2 separate regions of the Homo sapiens genome follow, and region 2 is linked to region 1. Evidence: fine-mapped expression QTL. A gene starts in region 1. The other region holds a variant in brackets. All regions are shown on one strand. Distances are between the middles of the regions. Region 1 holds the start of NDUFB9 (NADH:ubiquinone oxidoreductase subunit B9). Region 2 overlaps MTSS1 (MTSS I-BAR domain containing 1).

Region 1 (9,416 bases):
AACAATGACAATAGTAACATCAAAGGTGACTGATCACAGTTCACCACAACTGTGTGTAGATAGAGTAATAATAAAAAAAAGTTTGAAATATTGCAAGAATTGCCAAACTGAGAAACAGAGACAGGGAGTGAGCACATGCTGTTGGAAAAATGGTGCCCACAGACTTGCTCAGCACGGGGTTGCCACAAACTTTCAATCTGTGAAAATACAATATCTGCCAAGCACAATAAAACAAAATGCAATAAAATGAGGTAGGCCTGCATCTGACAACTGTCAGGAAATAAGTCTCCTAGCTACCCCTTGAAGGGCAAGTGATTTCTGAGGCTGAGGTGTGGGACTGAAGAAACAAAGTCTATTTCTCAGAAGGCAGTCATCATAATTCTCACCTACCTTGTAGCAATCGTATCTCTCATAGGAGGTGCCCCCAGGAGAGTCAGGGAAGATGTATGGCTGTGGATGCTGACGGTACCAGAATTCTTCCTCGGCCTCCTTCAGCAGCTGGGTGGCCTTCGCCATATCCTTTTCATTCTTATGTTCTTCAAACCGGGCTCTCATCAAACAAGCAAAGTATCGGTATTTGTCTCTTAAACCAAAATGATTTTGAAGATTAGAAATGTTACCTACTCACGTGGTCAGTGTTGCTGTCTGACAGGAGGCTGCACTTCTGATACCTTCTGGATGGGCAGTGGACCTACCCCAACCCTCCCAATGGAGCAGCCGTATCATCATGGCTGCTTCCTCTACAGCCCACCAAACAGCAGCAGCAAAAAAATACTGTATTAAATATATACCCTAACCATTTTTCTCCTCTTACATCCAACAATGGAATGAGGATTTAAACAAAAAAAAAAAAAAAAAAAAAGAAAAGAGCATTCGCAAGAGAAAAGCTATAACCTCTGCAGGATCATTCAACATTCATTGAATGACAACTTCCATTTCCTTCTATCTTGTGCTAGTCACTATGCTAAATTCTGGAGATACAAAGATGAATAAGAAAGGTGTTACTTGGCAGAAACAGTATTGCTTAGCTCATACAGAGCTAGGTTTGTATCCTGACTCTGACACTAGCTGCATAAACTTAGGCAAGTTAAAGTCAAGTTCTAAAGAAACTGGGCAAAGATCAGTTAGGAGGTTTTGACAATAATCTAGGACACAGCTGACGAGGGCCTGAAAGTACGGAGCTGTGATGGTGACAGGAGACAGGGGAGACATTGAGACTTCCAAGTTATGAGAATAGGCTCTCCAGTCAGACTGTATGGGCCTGAATCTTAGCTCTGCCACTACTAGCTGTGTAACTTGGGGTAAGTTACTGTCTTCTGGTCAGGTGCGGTGGCTCACACCTGTAATCCCAGCACGTTGGGAGGCCAAGGCGTGTGGATCACCTGAGGTCTGGAGTTCAAGACAAGCCTGATCAACATGGAGAAACCCCGTCTCTACTAAAAATACAAAAATGAGGCCGGGCATGGTGGCTCACGCCTGTAATCCCAGCACTTTGGGAGGCCAAGGCAGGGGGATCATCTGAGGTGAGGAGTTCTACACCAGCCTGGCCAACATGGTGAAATCCCGTCTCAGCTAAAAATACAAAAACTAGCCGGGCGTGGTGGCAGGCACCTGTAATCCCAGCTACTCTGGGGGCCAAGGCAGGAGAATAGCTTGAACCCGGGAGGCAGAGGTTGCAGTGAGTCGAGATTGTGCCATTTGCACTCCAGCCTGGGGGACAAGAGCGAGACTTCATCTCAAAAAAAAACAACAACAACAACAACAAAAAGGCCAGGCACGGTGGCTCACGCCTGTAATCCCAGCACTTTGGGAGGCTGAGGTGGAGGTCACCTGAGGTCAGGAGTTCAAGACCAGCCTGGCCAACATGGCAAAACCCCGTCTCTACTAAAAATACAAAAATTAGCCAGGCGTGGTGGCGCATGCCTGTAATCCCAGCTACTCGGGAGACTGAGGCAGGAGAATTGCTTGAACCCGGGAGACGGAACTTGCGGTGAGCCAAGATCGCGCCACTGCACTCCAGCCTGGGCAACATAAGCGAAACTCCGTCTAACAAAAAAACAAACAAAAAAAGTCTTCTAGGCCACGGGTTCCTCCTCTGTAAAACAGTGGCAATAACAGTGTGTATATCTTAAGGTTGTCATAAACAGTCAATAAGATAAACACACTTTAAAAAGTGCCTGGTACATCCCAAGTGTTAAATAATGTCAGTTACTAATATCATACTGGAAAGAGAATTTATAAAAACCAGTGTCTAATTATACATGGTGTATGAGTATGTGTGTTATTGGCAAAGGAATAAGGAGCAAATACTTGAGAACAATTCTGAGACTTAAAGCTCAGTAACTGAATTACTAATAATACCATTAGCGGAGGCAGGGAATTTGGGAAAAGAGTCAGAATGGGGAGTGACAGGAAAACAAGTTTGATTTCAAAGAATTTAGATAAATGGAGATTGAGAGAACGGTTGGTGATCTTTTCAATTTTTTTTTTATTATTATTTTTTGAGACAAAGTTTCACTCTTGTCGCCCAGGCTGGAGTGCAATGGGGCTATCTCGGCTCACTGCAGCCTCTGCCTCCCAGGTTCAAGCGGTTCTTCTGCCTCAGCCTCATGAGTAGCTGGGATTACAGGCACCCACCACCACGCCTGGCTAATTTTTGTATTTTTAGTAGAGACGCGGTTTCACATGTAGGCCAGGCTGTTGAACTCCTGGCCTCAGGTGATCCACTCACCTCAGCCTCCCAAAGTACTGGGATTATAGGCGTGAGCCATCATGCCCAGCCAACAGTCGTGATCTAACAAGCAATTCGAACTACAGCTCTAGAGACAAATGAGCGCAGGTGGTGACAGCACTAAATGAGGCTGCCCGAGTACATACAACAACACAGTATGCCTAGGATGGAACCACAGAGAACAGCACAATGAGGGCAAATGGAGGAAGAAATTAAGGCAAGGATTGAGAAAGAATGTCAGATCTAAAAAATGCTGAGCCATAACTGTCATAGTAGCTAGTTTATATCATTTTCCTCTAGAACTATGGACTTTAGTATTCCCAGCTATAGTTCAGTATTGCTTGAATTCTTTTTTTCATGTTTAACTTTTTTTGACACATAATTATTGTACCTATTTATGGGGTACATGTGATATTTTAATACATCCATATAATGTATAATGATCAAATCAGGGTAATTTGGATATTCATCACCTCAAACATTTACCATTTGTGTTGGGATACCTGAATCCCTGATGGCTCAACTTCCTTCATCATCGATTTGTTTACATGTCCATTTTCCCCACTAATCCGTGAGCTGCTGCTGCTCAAAAATGGATTTACTAACATTTATATATTTAGCATAGAGCATAGAATCTGAATTGCAAATTCTGTCAAATCAATAAATAAATAAGGAAAACTCAAGGAAGAAACTAACAATCCCATCACATTGTACTTGGCCATCTTCCTGCCAAATCAAGAGAAGTATGTCAGTGATTTTCTAATAGTCACATATATGCAATCTGGGCTTCGAGGGTACCCTCTGTAATTCTTCCAGGCCTACTCCATTTTCCATAGAGTTTTTTTCCCAGAAGGCCTTCTTATAAAACTACGTTTGGAGAGTCGTAAGACTGGAGTGGAGGCGAGGCACTCACACATCTTGGGTTGTTAGCCCACCCTGCAATGAATTTAGGTGATTAAAATCTACACATTTTAACACTATGTTCTCAGACTAGTCTCAGACGGATAGAGGTCGAAAGAGAATTATGTAAGAGGTGAAAAAGATGTAAAGGTAATGAAAAGGACTAGATGAAGCTAAAAAGAGAAAAGCTAATGGGAGGGGTGGGAGAATGATGATGCTTTGGAGAAAGACCTAAATTTTAACCCTGGCTCAGACACTTAGAAACTCTATCACCTTGCGCAAGTTACCAGCTGTGCTCATCTTCTTATCTGTAAAATAAGCTTAAGATAATTCCTAACTCCTAGAGTTTTGCAGACTGAAGAAAATAATGCATAGTTTATTGCTGTTAATATTGGAAAGGAGAAGATCGTGAAGAAAACGATTGAGCGAGCGCTGGACCCATGACAATTACAATTTTAGGCACTTTCCTTTATTTCACTTAATTTTCCTGCGACCCTCTGCGCTGGTCGTGCGTCCGTTTTACTAAACAAAAAGCTGACGCCCAGACCCGACAAGCAACTCTACAAGGTCTCCCGGCCATAAGTGGCGAAGCCTGGATTTGAACCCGGGTCTACCATAGGATTCTGTGAAGCGAGAGGCCACCTTCCAATTCCGTTCCCGAAGTCCTTGAACCTCCAGGTACCCAGGGGCCTCTCCACCTCCATGGGGCCCCGAGGGTCACCTCCCCGAGTCCTGGGTCCCCATCCCTTACCTCTGGACGCACCACGACTCGAGGTGGCGTAGCGCCCGCTTATAAAGCCGCAACACCTTTTGCTGATGGGTCAGGTAGGGTCCCGACGCCAAGAACGCCATTACGGCGCTGACCTTCCCCGGCCGCGCGGAGAGCCGGGAAACTGCACGCCTGCTGCGGGTGACTGAGCGGGGCCAGCCGGAAGGGCGGAGTTGCCGGCGGCCACTTCCGCTTCCGCTGGGGAGGTCCTCCATGCGCAGTCATGAGTCGCTTCAAGTTTATCGGTAAGAGGAGCGTTTTCCACGCCCTTGGGTCTTTCTGACTTGTCCCGGGCGTCGGTCACCAAGGTCACAGGACCCAGGAATTGCGCCCTCCGGCATTGTAAGGGTTGAAAGGGCCGCTCAGTGGAGGAGGGCGCGGGGAGGTTTCTGGGTGCTGGTAATGCTCTGGTTCTTGATCTAGGTTCTGGATTCACGAGGGTGTATTTATTTGTAAAAATTAACAAGCCGTACAGTTATGATTTTTGTGCTGTTTTCAACATCTGTAATGTATTCAGTTTTTTAAGAAGAAAACTCCAAAAAGGCCAATCACTATGTTTCCATTCATCCCACGTGCACCTCCCGGCCCTTCCCCTCTGCCTTGGCGGAGAGGCTGACCGCTTCTGGGGACCAATTCACTCAAGCATTCATTCGTTCATATCATAGTTAGTGAGCGCCTCAAGTGGGCCTGGCACTGGCCTAGGAACACAGGGCACAAAGCTCCCAGTTGTACTGTCATCACCATCTGGTGGAGAAACTAGAAAACACAAGTAATGGGGAGAAAAACAAACTGTACTTGGCAAGTACAATGATCCAGTCGGCATCAGTAGAACGAGAGGGAGAATGCTGCGGGATTTAAATGGGCATGATCCTCGTTTTGTGGGGTTTCCAGCTACCTGAAGGTGGGAAATGACAGTGATCACACCTCTGCTTTAGCAAGGTAATCCTGATAGCTATTATGTAGGTTTTGTGGGAAATAGGGAGAGGTAGGGAAGCATTTCAAGAGCTTAAACTAGGGTAATGGAAAAGAGAGAGAAATGGAAGAGATGTGTGCAGCATTTAGCAGCTGAGTGTTCATGGCCGGTAGTAGAGAGTGAACAAAGATGACTCAGGGTTTGGAAAAGTACTTAAATATGAAATGGAAGCATGACTAGTTTGGCGGTGAAGAGAGGTACCCAGGTCCATTTGGATTAGGTTAAGTTTGAGATAATTATAGGACATCCAGGTAGAGATATCTGGGCAATTGGGAATGTGGTCTGGCAATCAAGAGATTAGGATTATACATTTAGATCTGAGAGTTATTTAAGCAGTATTTTTTTTTTTCAAAGACGTTGTGCTAAGTCCTGTGGAACTGTAAAATCTAGTGGTGCAGTTTTCAGACTGGAGACCTAAGACCTATGTACTGTACAGTCAAAAGCAAATGCAGGGGAGAATATGTTAAGTGCCAGGAAAAAGGTTTTGAAATTGCTGTGGGAAAGCCTGGAGTAGGGGTTTGGGGAGGGGTTGTCAAATAAGACATTGCCGTGTCTTAGCCTTTCCATCCTAACCTTTGATATAATTGATGAGGGAGATGGAATAAAGAGCCATGAAGTACTCCGTAAAGAAAGGCCACATAACTTTTTAAAAGTGTGTTTATGTTATACAACCAAATTCCTGCCTCAAGTTAATGTCTTAAATCCATCCTCCATGTAGACTCCATTTTGGTGTATCTAAAAATCAAATCAGCTAAATGTTTCTTTTGCTTCAAATCTTTCATTTACGCTCCTCAGGATAGCCTAAATGCTTACACACCATACAAAGCCCTTCTGTGGTCCAGTCCTGCCCACTTTTCTAGCCCATCCCTGGGCTGCTCTATAAACACTTGTGCATGCTGTTTGTTACCTCTGACAAGGTTTTAGAGTGGCAGTTTGGGGCCAAAATATTCCTCTGCCTACCAACTACCCTGTTGCCTGTCTGCCTACTCACTCCTTAAAACTTATACCACATTATTTATAATTAAATATGAGTATGCCTTTCCCACTAGATCAAACTCTTAAGGCAGATACTGGTATGGTATTTATATTTTTTTCCTAGGGGCGTAGTACAATGACTGTTTGGGAAAGTATGAATGAGTGGCTTTAGTGCTAAGGTGATAAGAAAATTAGTAAAGGGATTAGCATCAGATAAAATAAGCAAGAAAAGACTTCTTAAAGAAGGTGACTTTATTGGAATAAATAATTGAAATAAATTTTTTTCTGTATGGTTTCCTTTAGCCCCACTCTCCTAAAGTAACCATATTAAAAGTTTGAAGTATAGCCTTCCCTAATTTTTTAATAGATTGTTATACAGATTCATAAAAATACAACATATCAAGGTTTTTTTTTTTCCTTTTGAAACAGAAATGAGATCATATTATGCATTCTATCCTTGGTATATGACTTACTCTGATATTTAATCTTTCAGTTTGTGTCATTTAAAAAATTCTGCCCATGAATCGCTAGACTAATTTCTTAGCCTAATAATGAGTTCTGAACAATATTTTGAAAAACATCATATTAAATCCCTGGAACAAGCTTCACATGGGACAATTGCATGAAAAATTGAACCCATTTTATGAAAATTACCTTAGATTTTGGTTTAAGACAGCTGACCATTGTAATTCTTTCTACATTTCTCTCTTTTCTACTTGCATAACAAGTGGCTGCCCCTTAGAACTATACCCCAACAGTGGGGGTTTTTGTTTGTTTTGAGACAGGGTCTTGCTCTGTCACCTAGGCTGGAGTACAGTGGCTTAGATCATGGCTCCAGCATTGACCTCCTAGGCTCAAGTGATCTTCCTGCCTCATCCTCCCAAGTAGCTGAGACTAGAGGTGCTCACCACCATACCAGGCTAATTTTTTTTTGTAGACCACTGTGTCCTGCTATGTTGCTCAGGCTGGTCTTGAATTGCTGGCCTTAAGCAGTCCTTCCACCTCCGCCTCCCAAAGTTCTGGGATTACACGTGGAGCCACTGGCCAGCATGAGAATTTCTTTAGCCCAGCTTATACTCTCTTTTCTGTCTCCACAAGTGGAATTCTATTCCCTGGGTGTTATTTACAAACTCTTCCACTCTCAAAAATACTTCTACCTGTAACTATTATATGCCAGAATCTCTACTGCATTGATCTTAGACTACATAGTACACCAAAAAATGAGAAATATCTGTGCAAGAAGAAAATGCAAAATACAAACAACAGTGAAAATAAAAACATCATATTCCATTCCTGATATAGTTTAGATATTTGTCCCCTCCAAATCTCATGTTAAAATTTGCTCTCCAATGTTGAGGTGGTCCAGTGGGAGGTGTTTGGGTCACTTCCCAACATCCATCTCATGGGGGTGGATCCCTCATGAAAGGCTTGATGGCCTCCCTGTGGTAATGAGTTCACACTGGCTCCCCTTCCCTTTCCACCAGGATTGGAAGCTTACTGAGATCCTCCCAAAAGCAGATGTTGGTGTCATGCATCTTGTACAACCTGCAGAACCATGAGCCAAATACACCTCTTTTCTTTATAAATCACCCAGTCTCAGGTATTCCTTTATAGCAATGCAAAAGCAGATTAATACAGTTCCTCCAAATCACACATAACACCACCATGTCTATCTTTCCAGATCTTCTGTAGGCATACCAAACAAAATAAGATCATACTGAGGCTACTCTTTTGTGCTCTGCTTTTTTCAATCACAGTCTCCACCTTTCCATTTCAGGAAATGTTCATCTTAACTAGTACCAAAATCATACTCAAATTTTTCCTGTTGTTCCAAAAATGTCCCTTGGTGGTCATGTCCAAAATGGTATCCCATTTAGAGCCACACATTTGGTTGTTCCTTAAATTTTTGAATCAAGTGCAGAGGTTTGCAAACTTTTTCCTTAAAGGGCCATATAGTAAATATTTTAGACTTTGAGGGCCACGTGATCTCTATTGCAGCTATTCAACTCTGCCCTTTTGTGTACTGTGATGTAATAGTAAATACGTGTGTGTTCTCTGCTCCCATTTCTTTGTGCACAACTCCTGAAACCCTTGGAATCTCCTAAGTGCTAAGTGTCTTTTTGTATGCTGCTAAGATGACTGATGGCTGGGGGCTCCTGGATAGCCTCAGGATGGGGGTTTGCCTAGGAAAACCCATCATGTGATTAGAGAGTTGGAAGTTTCAGTCCCTCCCACCCACTCCCACTTCTGGGGAAGGGGAGAGAAACTGAAGGTTGAGTTGTTCACTAATGGCCAGTGATTTAATCAATCATACCTACATGGTGAAGCCTCTATAAAAACCCATACATGTCTCTATGTGTCTCTTCCACCTGGCCGTTTTTGAATGGCATCTTTTTACAATGAATGGGTAATAAGTAAAGTGCTTTCCTGAGTTCCGTGAGCTGCTCTAGCAAATGATCAAACCTGAGAAGGGGGTTGTGGGAACCTCTTATTGTAGCCAAGTTAGACAAGTTGTGGGTAACCTGGGAACCTACTGCTTGTAATTGGTATCTGAAATGGGGAGAGTCTTGTGGGACTGAGCCCTTGACCTCTGCGGTCTGATGTTATATCCAGGTAGATAGTGTGAGAATTGAGTTAAATTATAGGTCACCCAGCTGGTGTCAGAGAATTGGTTGTTGGGAGAGGAAACCCCACACATACCTGACGTCAGAAGTGAATCCTCACGCCTGTAATCCAAGCACTTTGGGAGGCCAAGGTGGGAGGACTGCTTGAGCCCGGGAGTTCAAGACCAGCCTGGGCAACAAAGTGAGACCCCATCTCTACTTAAAACAAACAAACAAAAAATTCAGAGTATTGTGAGTATGAGAATACTGTAGGAGAAAGCAGTTTGCATTTTTTCCTATCTCACACCTTGTCATTCAAAAGCAGGTGATAGACAGTATGTAAATAGGTGTGGCTATGTTCCAGTAAAACTTACGGTCACTGAAACTTGAAGTTCTTATAATTTTGATGTGTCACAAAATATTCTTTTGATTTTCTTCAACTATTTAAAAATGTAAAGTCATTCT
Region 2 (8,708 bases), 21 kb before region 1:
AAGGCAGACAGAAATCCAGAGCGGGTGTGTCATTATTTGACATCCTGTTTACTGTGCCATTTCAAGAGCAAACAGCTGAGCATTGATTGCCCTTAGTCGCTGAAAGCTGCCTGCCTCTTGCCAAGTGTGCTATTGTGCCAGACCCACAGATATTTTAACACAGAAACAGCTGGGGTCAGAGTAAAAACATTAATTAAAGCATCACTTTGTTAAAAGGTAAAACATATGCACACCAACATAGTGAGTTGATTTGCTGATGTTCTTGACAGCGGGCTTGACCAGACTCAGCTAGGATGAAATCACCTCAGCAAATCCATCGGCAGTGCTTAGCTGGGTTGGCCTTGGTCATGTGGACCCAGATGGTCCATCCAAGAACATTCCAGTCATGCTGAAGCCCCAGTGGACTTTTGCTGCAGGCTCATGGTTCCTGCAGGCAGATTAACCCTGTCCCTTTTCTTGCTACTGACATCAGCTCCCCTCGTTTTGGTGGTAGGCGAAGCAGCAGAGTTGGGCGCACTTGACGTTTTAGAACCCCAGACCTCCCTCGTAAGAATGCCACATGGTTACCATCGGAGACCTGAGTCCTGGCAGCTGTATTTCCCCCTGGGTCACCTGGAAAAGCATTTTGTTGACTACCTTCATGATTTGGTGTTTTGAAAACGTGTTTTGTGGTTTGCACTGCATCTCCAGGGCAGAGAGCTAATTGCATTATGTTGTGCTTCTCTCTCTTCTGCCTCATCTGTTCCCCTCCTTCCTCCTTCCTCTTACCACTGCTCCCCTTTCTTTACCTTCCGTGCCCACCCCTCACCCCTGCTTGTCCTCCACAGCAGCCTGAACAGTGTCAACAGCAGTGACTCCCGGTCCAGCGGCTCCCACTCGCATTCCCCCAGCTCACATTACCGCTACCGCAGCTCCAACCTGGCCCAGCAGGCTCCTGTGAGGCTGTCCAGCGTGTCCTCCCATGACTCAGGATTCATATCCCAGGATGCCTTCCAGTCCAAGTCACCATCCCCCATGCCGCCAGAGGCCCCCAACCAGGTAAGGGTGCCCTTGGCTCCAGGAGCAGCTGTCACACCTGGTGTCCTGACCACTGTCAGTGGCCAGAACCAAAGAAGCACCTTGGCTTAGACAATCCCCTGCCCACTGACTTGAGAAACCTCTGGTTTAATTTCTCATCTTTAGATGTATTGTTCCCCTAAAGGGAGAGGTGCTATAAGTGGGTTTGAAGCCTGTCTCCATGGTGGTAATGGTTGCATTACCACATCGATTTGGGGAGCTCTCACGTAAGTAGATGGATTGAAAGAGGTTTGACCACTCTCAGGCGTCCCTGTAAGTGCCCAGCTTGGCATAATTAAATGCTATAATTAAAGGGCATTGCACAATGGGGACACCTCCTCCCCCACATCTCAGGTTCTCCCTGAATGGCTGAGATTCTATGGTTGAATAGCGCTTCCGATACCATCCCTTGGCGCTCTCAGGTTCCTTTTATCAATCTGTGTTGAGAATGAGAATGAATCATCAGAGCTTCTGCACATAATTCTGTTGGCACTTAGATTCTGGAAGGGAAGGTGTGGCAGAATCTCTTCAACTACAGCTGGGTTTAATGGTGCTAGGCCCAGCCCAGCCCAGTGGTTCCAGCTGGAGCAGAACGCAGGAGCTGGCCAGGGCATCTGAACACTCTTCATGTGCATCATCAATGTATGTGATCCTCTCTCTGTCCTCTCTCCCTTAGTGTCATTGGGTTGGTGTCGGCCTTGAACTTGGCAAGTAGCTCTACATACAGAATGCTGGGTGCCCCACAGCCCCACCTGCTGGGAAACCCATGTCAGAGCTCTGCGTTCCTCTCCTCACAGCTCAGCGCTCCCATTAGCATTTTTCAGCCATCCTGGGGACTGTGGCCTCTGTCTGCCTTCCTTGGATACACACTCAATTTTAAACGCACTCAGAGCCAAGAGCCACGGCTATAGTTTGAGAGTGCTTGAGAGTGCGTGTCCCACCTGGGGTGCTTGGCTTGGTCTGTAAGGAGCTCCTCTTCCCCGCTGTGTGCTTCACTAAACCATATGTGCTGCTCACAAGCAGAGAGGGCAAAGGGTCGGGAGGAGGGCTGGAATGTGCAGTTCCTCCGGGCTGTTCTAGTGTGCAGCATAATTGTGTGTGTGTGTTTAATTGACAAATTAACATAGTAGTGTGCACTGACGCCCCTTTCTGAAAAGGAGAAGCCACGTGCTGCAGCCTTCCCTTCCAAGACTGTGAGTGTGGATGGGGTAGAACAGAGTGTTTCCCATGGCATGGAGGGAAGCAGAAGAGGGCATATTGGGTTTACTTAAATCTGAAAACCTGTGCCCAAGACATGCGTGGCTAGCAACTCTAGGGTAGCTTTTTGTTTTGTCATGTTATGTTTTTAAGACAGTCTCGCTTTGTCACCCCAGGCTGGAGTGCAGTGGTGCAATGTTGGCTCACTGTAACCTCCACCTCCTGGGTTCAAGCGATTCTCCTGCCTCAGCCTCCCAAGTAGCTGGGATTACAGGCACGCGCCACCATTCCCAGCTAACTTTTGTATTTTTAGTAGAGGTGGGCTTTTGCCAGGCTGGTCAGGCTGACCTCAGGTGATCCGCCCACCTCGGTCTCCCAAAATTCTGGAATTACAGGCATGAGCCACCGCGCCCGGCCACTAGGGTAGTTTTAATGAGCTCAGGGATGCTACAAAACTTAATAGAGAATTCTTATTTTTTAAGAAAGGCATTACGACTGCTTATTATTATAAGGTAAAGGGGAAATTGAAGGTCATTGTACAGATCACATTAGCCAGAGGGTACAATCTCCTGAAGGCAGTAACCTCCCCTTTATTAGGGAGAAAGGGGGCATACATCTAGGAGGCGCAGGAGCCCTTCATTTCTCTACTGAGTAACACAGGTCTGAGATGAAAGCCGAGTGATGGAATTTGTTCAGAATTCTCTGGTTTACCTCCCTCCACTCTTCAAATTGTGCCCTCACCCATCTGTGCCCAGGAGTGGGGCCATGTCTTCAATGAGGGTCTCACCCTAGAGCCATTTATTCCATCTGAGTCAAGAGGTTCTTTATAAAAAATGAGCATAATTCCAAAGAAATCTGAACCTGCAGTCCTGCGGTGGGTTACTGTTTTGTTGTTTTATTTTTGTTCGTTTTTTTTGAGACAGGGTCTCACTCTGTTGCCCAGGATGAAGTGCAGTGGCGGGATCATAGGTCACTGTAACCTTGAACTCCTGGATTCAGGCAATTCTCCTACCTCAGCCTACCAAGTAGCTGGGACTATAGGCATGTGCCACCATGCTTGGCTAATTTTATTTTAGATTTGAGAATACATGTGCCTTGCATACTGGTGAGGATTGGGCTTCTATTTCCATTACCCAAATAGTGAGCATTGTCTCTGATAGGCAATTTTTCAACCCTCACTCCTTTCCTCTTTTACATTTTTTATTTTTTGTAGAGATGAGGTCTTGCTATCTTGCCCAGGCTGTTCTCCAATTCCTAGCCTCAAGCAGTCTTCCTGCCTTGGCCTCCCAAAGTGCCAGGATTACAGGCATGAGCCACCACATCTGGCTGTTTTTTGTTGATAAAGCCCTCTAAACCTCAAATTTTTTAAGTTCAGTTTCTCGACTGGGAATTGGCACAAATGTGACTTAAATCCAAACCTTCCATCTTCAAATCCTGGGCTGCTAACCAGACACTGAGCTCAGAGTGCAGCTGGGATGTCCGTCCACCGTGGAGTCTCTCCTTGCTTTGGGTCCACTGAGCCCCACACATTGTTGAGTGTCTGATTGTCTCCTTGCCCTTACAGGACAGGAAAGCGAAATCTCTGTTCCTTTGTAGGGACCTTTCTTTTGTAGGTGAAAGGGACAGAAATATGATTCTGGCCTCCTTGATGGTGAATACAGGAACACTTTCAGATAAATTACAATAGAGAGGAGTCAGCTTATTTAAACAAACTGAGGTTAAGCCAGAGATTGCAGTTAACAGTGAAAAAATTTAAAGCAAGTACCTGGATGGATGCAAAGCAGTGCCCAGGAGACCCAACTTACGTGACAGAGATGATCATTGTCACTCATTCATTATGTTTTGAGCACCAGCCATGTGCCAGGTCCAGAACTAGAAGAAACTTGGGTGTAGGTGAGATCATAGGAACAGTCCCTGCCCCAGCTGAACATCAGGAAGCCAGACTGGGAGCGCATGCCGTGGCTGACTAGGACTCCAGCAGGGACCTGGGGTTCCATCAGATCAGTGTAAAGCGATGGTTTCCCAAATGAGACCTCTCCAGAGATGGTTCATTCCACCCCACAATGGCCACCAGAAACATTGTGCTGACCAGAGGGCTTCACTGCCCCAAACCCCAAAATCACACTCCAGGATGAGAAACCTAAAAGTCTGTCTTGATGAGGCTTCATAGCTGGAAACCACCCCTCATGGATCCACAGGCTGCATTTGATGAAAGGAGACTCCAGGAAGTCGAGCCATTCCAGGCAGACATGTAGCAAAAGCCCGAGCTGGGGTCCGCCCTCATGCAATAAATAACACCTATGCACATAAGAGAGGTGACAGGC[G/A]GGGCCTCCCTGGGGACCTGGGCCTGTGGCACGTGAAGAAACACCCAAGAGAGCACGAAGTCCCAATGCCATGACCAGATATTTCGGTGCCAGGCATGCTTCTGGGTCCCAGCAAAAGACACACAAATCCGTGTCCTTGGGGACCCACAGTCTAGTGACCTAGGGCTGGCCGGGTCGCACGCTTCTTTTCAAGGGCTCGAAAGCCTCTGCATGGATGCAACTTTGGGGGAAAAGTAACCCTAACCCTCTGCTTCTCTCATCCTCCCCTCTTCTGTGTATATGTCTGTCTCTTTCTCTCTGTGTGTGCCCTTCCCCACTCCCATCCCCATTCCTTTTTTTATTTATTATATTTTGGTGGTGTGTGGCTCGGTTTCTGTTGGTCCCCTCGTGTGGCCCCTCCCCTGCTGCAGAACTCGTCCAGCTCGGCCTCCTCCGAAGCCTCGGAAACCTGCCAGTCAGTGAGCGAGTGCAGCTCCCCCACCTCTGTCAGCTCGGGCTCCACCATGGGTGCCTGGGTGTCCACAGAGAAGGTGACCGCCCGGGTGGCAGCCACAGCGGCCCCACTCTCCCTGGTCCCCCTGCCTGCTGCTCAGACAGCCCTCACAGCCGCGGCAACCTGGAAGCTCAGAATCGACACCAAGAGTGGGGCTCCTCTTGGGGACAGAGGGTGGGACAAGGCTGAGGGCATTTTCTAGAATGAGTGCCTGGCTGCTGGACAATGACCACATGGTTGTCTCAAGGGAGAGGAAGGGGTATGGGGAATTTGGAGGTGTGAAGGCTTTCTCCCAGACCAGGTGTTGCGTGCCTGTCCATCCTCCTCCCTCCCTTCCCGAGCCACCCACCAGACCGTTGGATGAGCCATGTCACTGTGTCAGAGGCTGTGTGCTTTTCCGCTTTTTAGTTTGCACCCCCACCCCCCTGCCCTTGATTGAGAATGTGCTCCTGAGCAATGCGATGATTTTGGAAACCTAGAATGAACAGATTCATTTGAAGATGCTTTGGAATTTTTAAATTTGCATAATGAAATGAGCAAATCACTATCACCATTAAATGAGGCTTCATTAGTTACATTATCAAAAACCATTGACAAGGCCACAAATTGAGGGCACTGATCAATTTCCAAACTTCTAAAACGTAGGTCAAACATAGATGCTTATTTGCTGTCAAACTCATGTGCATTCTTTGCACCCCGGCTCTTTTCTCTTGCATCACAGATCATCCGTGAGCAGCAGAGCCCCAATGTTTGTTTTATTTATAAATATTCAGGTTTCCCCTCCCTTGAATGTCAATGCCATTTTGTATCTCCGCACTCATCCTGTTATATTAATTTTTTTTCCTTCCCCCCCCCTTTTTTTGTTTGTTTCCAGTTGTCTAACGGGTTTTCTCACTATAGTTTATCAAGTGAGTCCCACGTGGGGCCCACGGGTGCAGGCCTTTTCCCTCATTGCCTGCCTGCCTCCCGCCTGCTCCCTCGGGTCACCTCTGTCCACCTTCCAGACTACGCTCATTATTACACCATTGGGCCCGGCATGTTCCCGTCATCTCAGATCCCTAGCTGGAAGGTTTGTGTCTCTCCCCCTCCTCCTCTCCCCGTCATTGCCTCTGTGCTCACCCCTCTTCTGTTCCAACCCCCTCACCCCGACTATCCCCTCATCCCCTTCCTTTCACACTCTGCCTTCTTCCCCATAATGCCTCTCCCTCAGGAAACTCCCATTGGGGGAGAAGCAGAAAGCAGCCGGCAGCTCTAAGACAGCAATTTCCACAGGTAGCTGGGGCTGAGGGTCTTCCTTCAGGGGACTTTGGTCAATCCCTGATGGACGGCAGTGCAGTGTGCACCGCAGGCAGCGGCAATTCCAAGTCCAAAGGCCCAGTTTTGCATCAAGTTGAAATCTATGGGTTGGTCCCTCCCGGGGGCCACCTGAGGGTGTCAGCATGATCAGAGCTTCTAGGGGGTTTAGGGGGGACTTTCCTTCTGGCCATGTTTCCCATTTTCCCTAATGAGCTCCCTGCTGGGCTGTGGTAACAGAACCATAACCCAAAGCAGGTTTGGGGTGATCATGTTGAACTTAACAGTACACGCAGACTTTAGTTTTAGTCTTGAGTGTTCAAACATGTTTGCTTTAATATAAAGACGAACTTTGAAAATGATCCCCTAGCAAGTCCGATCAATGCTCCTCCAGGAGGATAATCTGCTCTCTTTTGAGAGGAGGACCCTAATTTGAAAAGTAGGCCCCTTGGCTGCCAGCGTTTTAAGCAGGTTTTGACTTTAGCCCTCACAGGCGGTGTGGGCCTCTCAAGGCTTCTCGGAATCTTTCTACTGCCCCTGGGCGCCTTCCTTTCCTTCTGAGGGCTTGAGAGGGCAGGGAGCCTGCCATGCCCTTTGAGGCTGGTTTCCTGGGAATGGAGGGAGAAGGGCTGATGTTGCTTTAGTGCTCGCTGGTGGCCATTCCCCTAACGGGAAGCCATCTGGGTTGTTAAGGAGCGCTGGTCCCTTCAGACAGGAGAAGCACGATGTACTGCCCACTGGTGGGTCCCCTTAGCTTACACCGGTCACCTGTTAGGTGGCTGCCGGGTCTCCTGCTGCCACCTGGTGGGTGAGGGTTTTTAATCTTTGGGCAGAGACGAGGAAAAGGGAGGTACACAGGGGGCTCCCAAAGGGTTTCCATTCCTTGCCCTTTAGAGCCTGGAGAGGGCATGCAGAGGGCCTGTGGCTTGTCCCAGCCGGAGGTTCCCCTTAAGGGGACCAGCTGCCTTCTCTGGGGAGCTGTCTATGGGGTCCCCGCAGCCCTCCAGTGGAGGCAGAGGCCCTGGCTCCTGACCGCACTTGTTTTGCATAGGACTGGGCTAAGCCTGGGCCCTATGACCAGCCTCTGGTGAACACCCTGCAGCGCCGCAAAGAGAAGCGAGAACCGGACCCCAACGGGGGAGGACCCACTACCGCCAGCGGCCCACCTGCAGCAGCTGAGGAGGCTCAGAGACCACGGAGCATGACTGTATCGGCTGCCACCAGGGTGATGCTCTTGTTCTCAGTAGCTGGTTGGGGCCACCTCAGCCTGGCTGGGGATCACATTCTGGCCAGCAACTGGGGGGCCAAGGCAGCCTTGCAGCTGGAGGGACCTGGGCTCCATTCCCTGACTTCCTGCTCTACAGCAAAGTCCCTGGGAAAAAAACCTTGTGTGGGAATGAGAGAGGCAGAACTTTCTAGGGTCAGAGTGGGACCCAAGCAAGTCAATAGCCCCCTGGCCCCACAGACATGTAGTGCTCACGGGGGCAGAACAGGAGTGCTGTTGAGCCCCCCCCCTAAAGCAACCTGTGTATTTCTCTCCTCCAACCTGCAGCCTGGTGAGGAGATGGAGGCTTGTGAGGAGCTGGCCCTGGCCCTGTCTCGGGGCCTGCAGCTGGACACCCAGAGGAGCAGCCGGGACTCGCTTCAGTGCTCCAGCGGCTACAGCACCCAGACAACCACCCCCTGCTGCTCTGAGGACACCATCCCTTCCCAAGGTACGAGGCAGCCTGGGGTGTGCACTTAGGCTTTCTGAGCAGCACCAGGTGAGGAGATAGAAAACTGCTGGTCCATTTTAACCACAACCCACCACTCGCTAACTAACAGGTGTCAGGATTGTTTTCGTCATCTGGGAATGCTTTGGGGAGCTCATCTGTAGTTGTCAGGTAGCTGCCATATAAGAAAGGGATCTGGGGTCGGGCGCAGTGGCTCACGCCTGTAATCCCAGCACTTTGGGAGGCCAAGGCAGGTGGATCACGAGGTCAGGAGATCGAGACTATCCTGGCTAACATGGTGAAACCCCATCTCTACTAAAAATACAAAAAAATTAGCCGGGCGTGGTGGCAGGCGCCTGTAGTCCCAGCTACTCAGGAGGCTGAGGCAGGAGAATGGCGTGAACCCAGGAGGCAGAGCTTGCAGTGAGCTGAGATCGCGCCACTGCACTCCAGCCCGGGTGACAGAGCAAGACTCTGTCTCAAAAAAAAATAATAATAAATAAAGGGATCTGGACTTTCACAGCTTTTTGCGTTTTGCAGCATCATATACAGCAGTCTCCAATTTGAATGGAGACATGTGCTGTAATAAGAATAGCTTCAGGCCAGGGCAGTGGCTTACGCCTGTAATCTCAA

What was found.
Region 2: its variant is fine-mapped to the expression of NDUFB9 in whole blood (TOPMed, PIP above 0.99).

What each region holds. Positions count from the first base shown.
Region 1 is chr8:124,534,254-124,543,669 of GRCh38, reverse strand. It overlaps NDUFB9 (NADH:ubiquinone oxidoreductase subunit B9), which reads right to left and starts at 4,547. Exons shown (of 4, transcript NM_005005.3): 1 at 4,383-4,547; 2 at 391-583. The coding sequence starts at 4,483. TATDN1 (TatD DNase domain containing 1) reads left to right here and starts at 4,585. Exons shown (of 12, transcript NM_032026.4): 1 at 4,585-4,645. The coding sequence starts at 4,624. RefSeq lists an enhancer at 4,655-4,724.
Region 2 is chr8:124,555,112-124,563,819 of GRCh38, reverse strand. It overlaps MTSS1 (MTSS I-BAR domain containing 1), which reads left to right. Exons shown (of 14, transcript NM_014751.6): 10 at 828-1,038; 11 at 5,945-6,139; 12 at 7,415-7,588; 13 at 7,916-8,078. Among named protein-coding and RNA genes, the nearest start is that of NDUFB9, 20 kb to the right of the region's middle. RefSeq lists a silencer at 1,755-1,844. The variant G/A (reference allele first, on the strand shown) is at 4,578.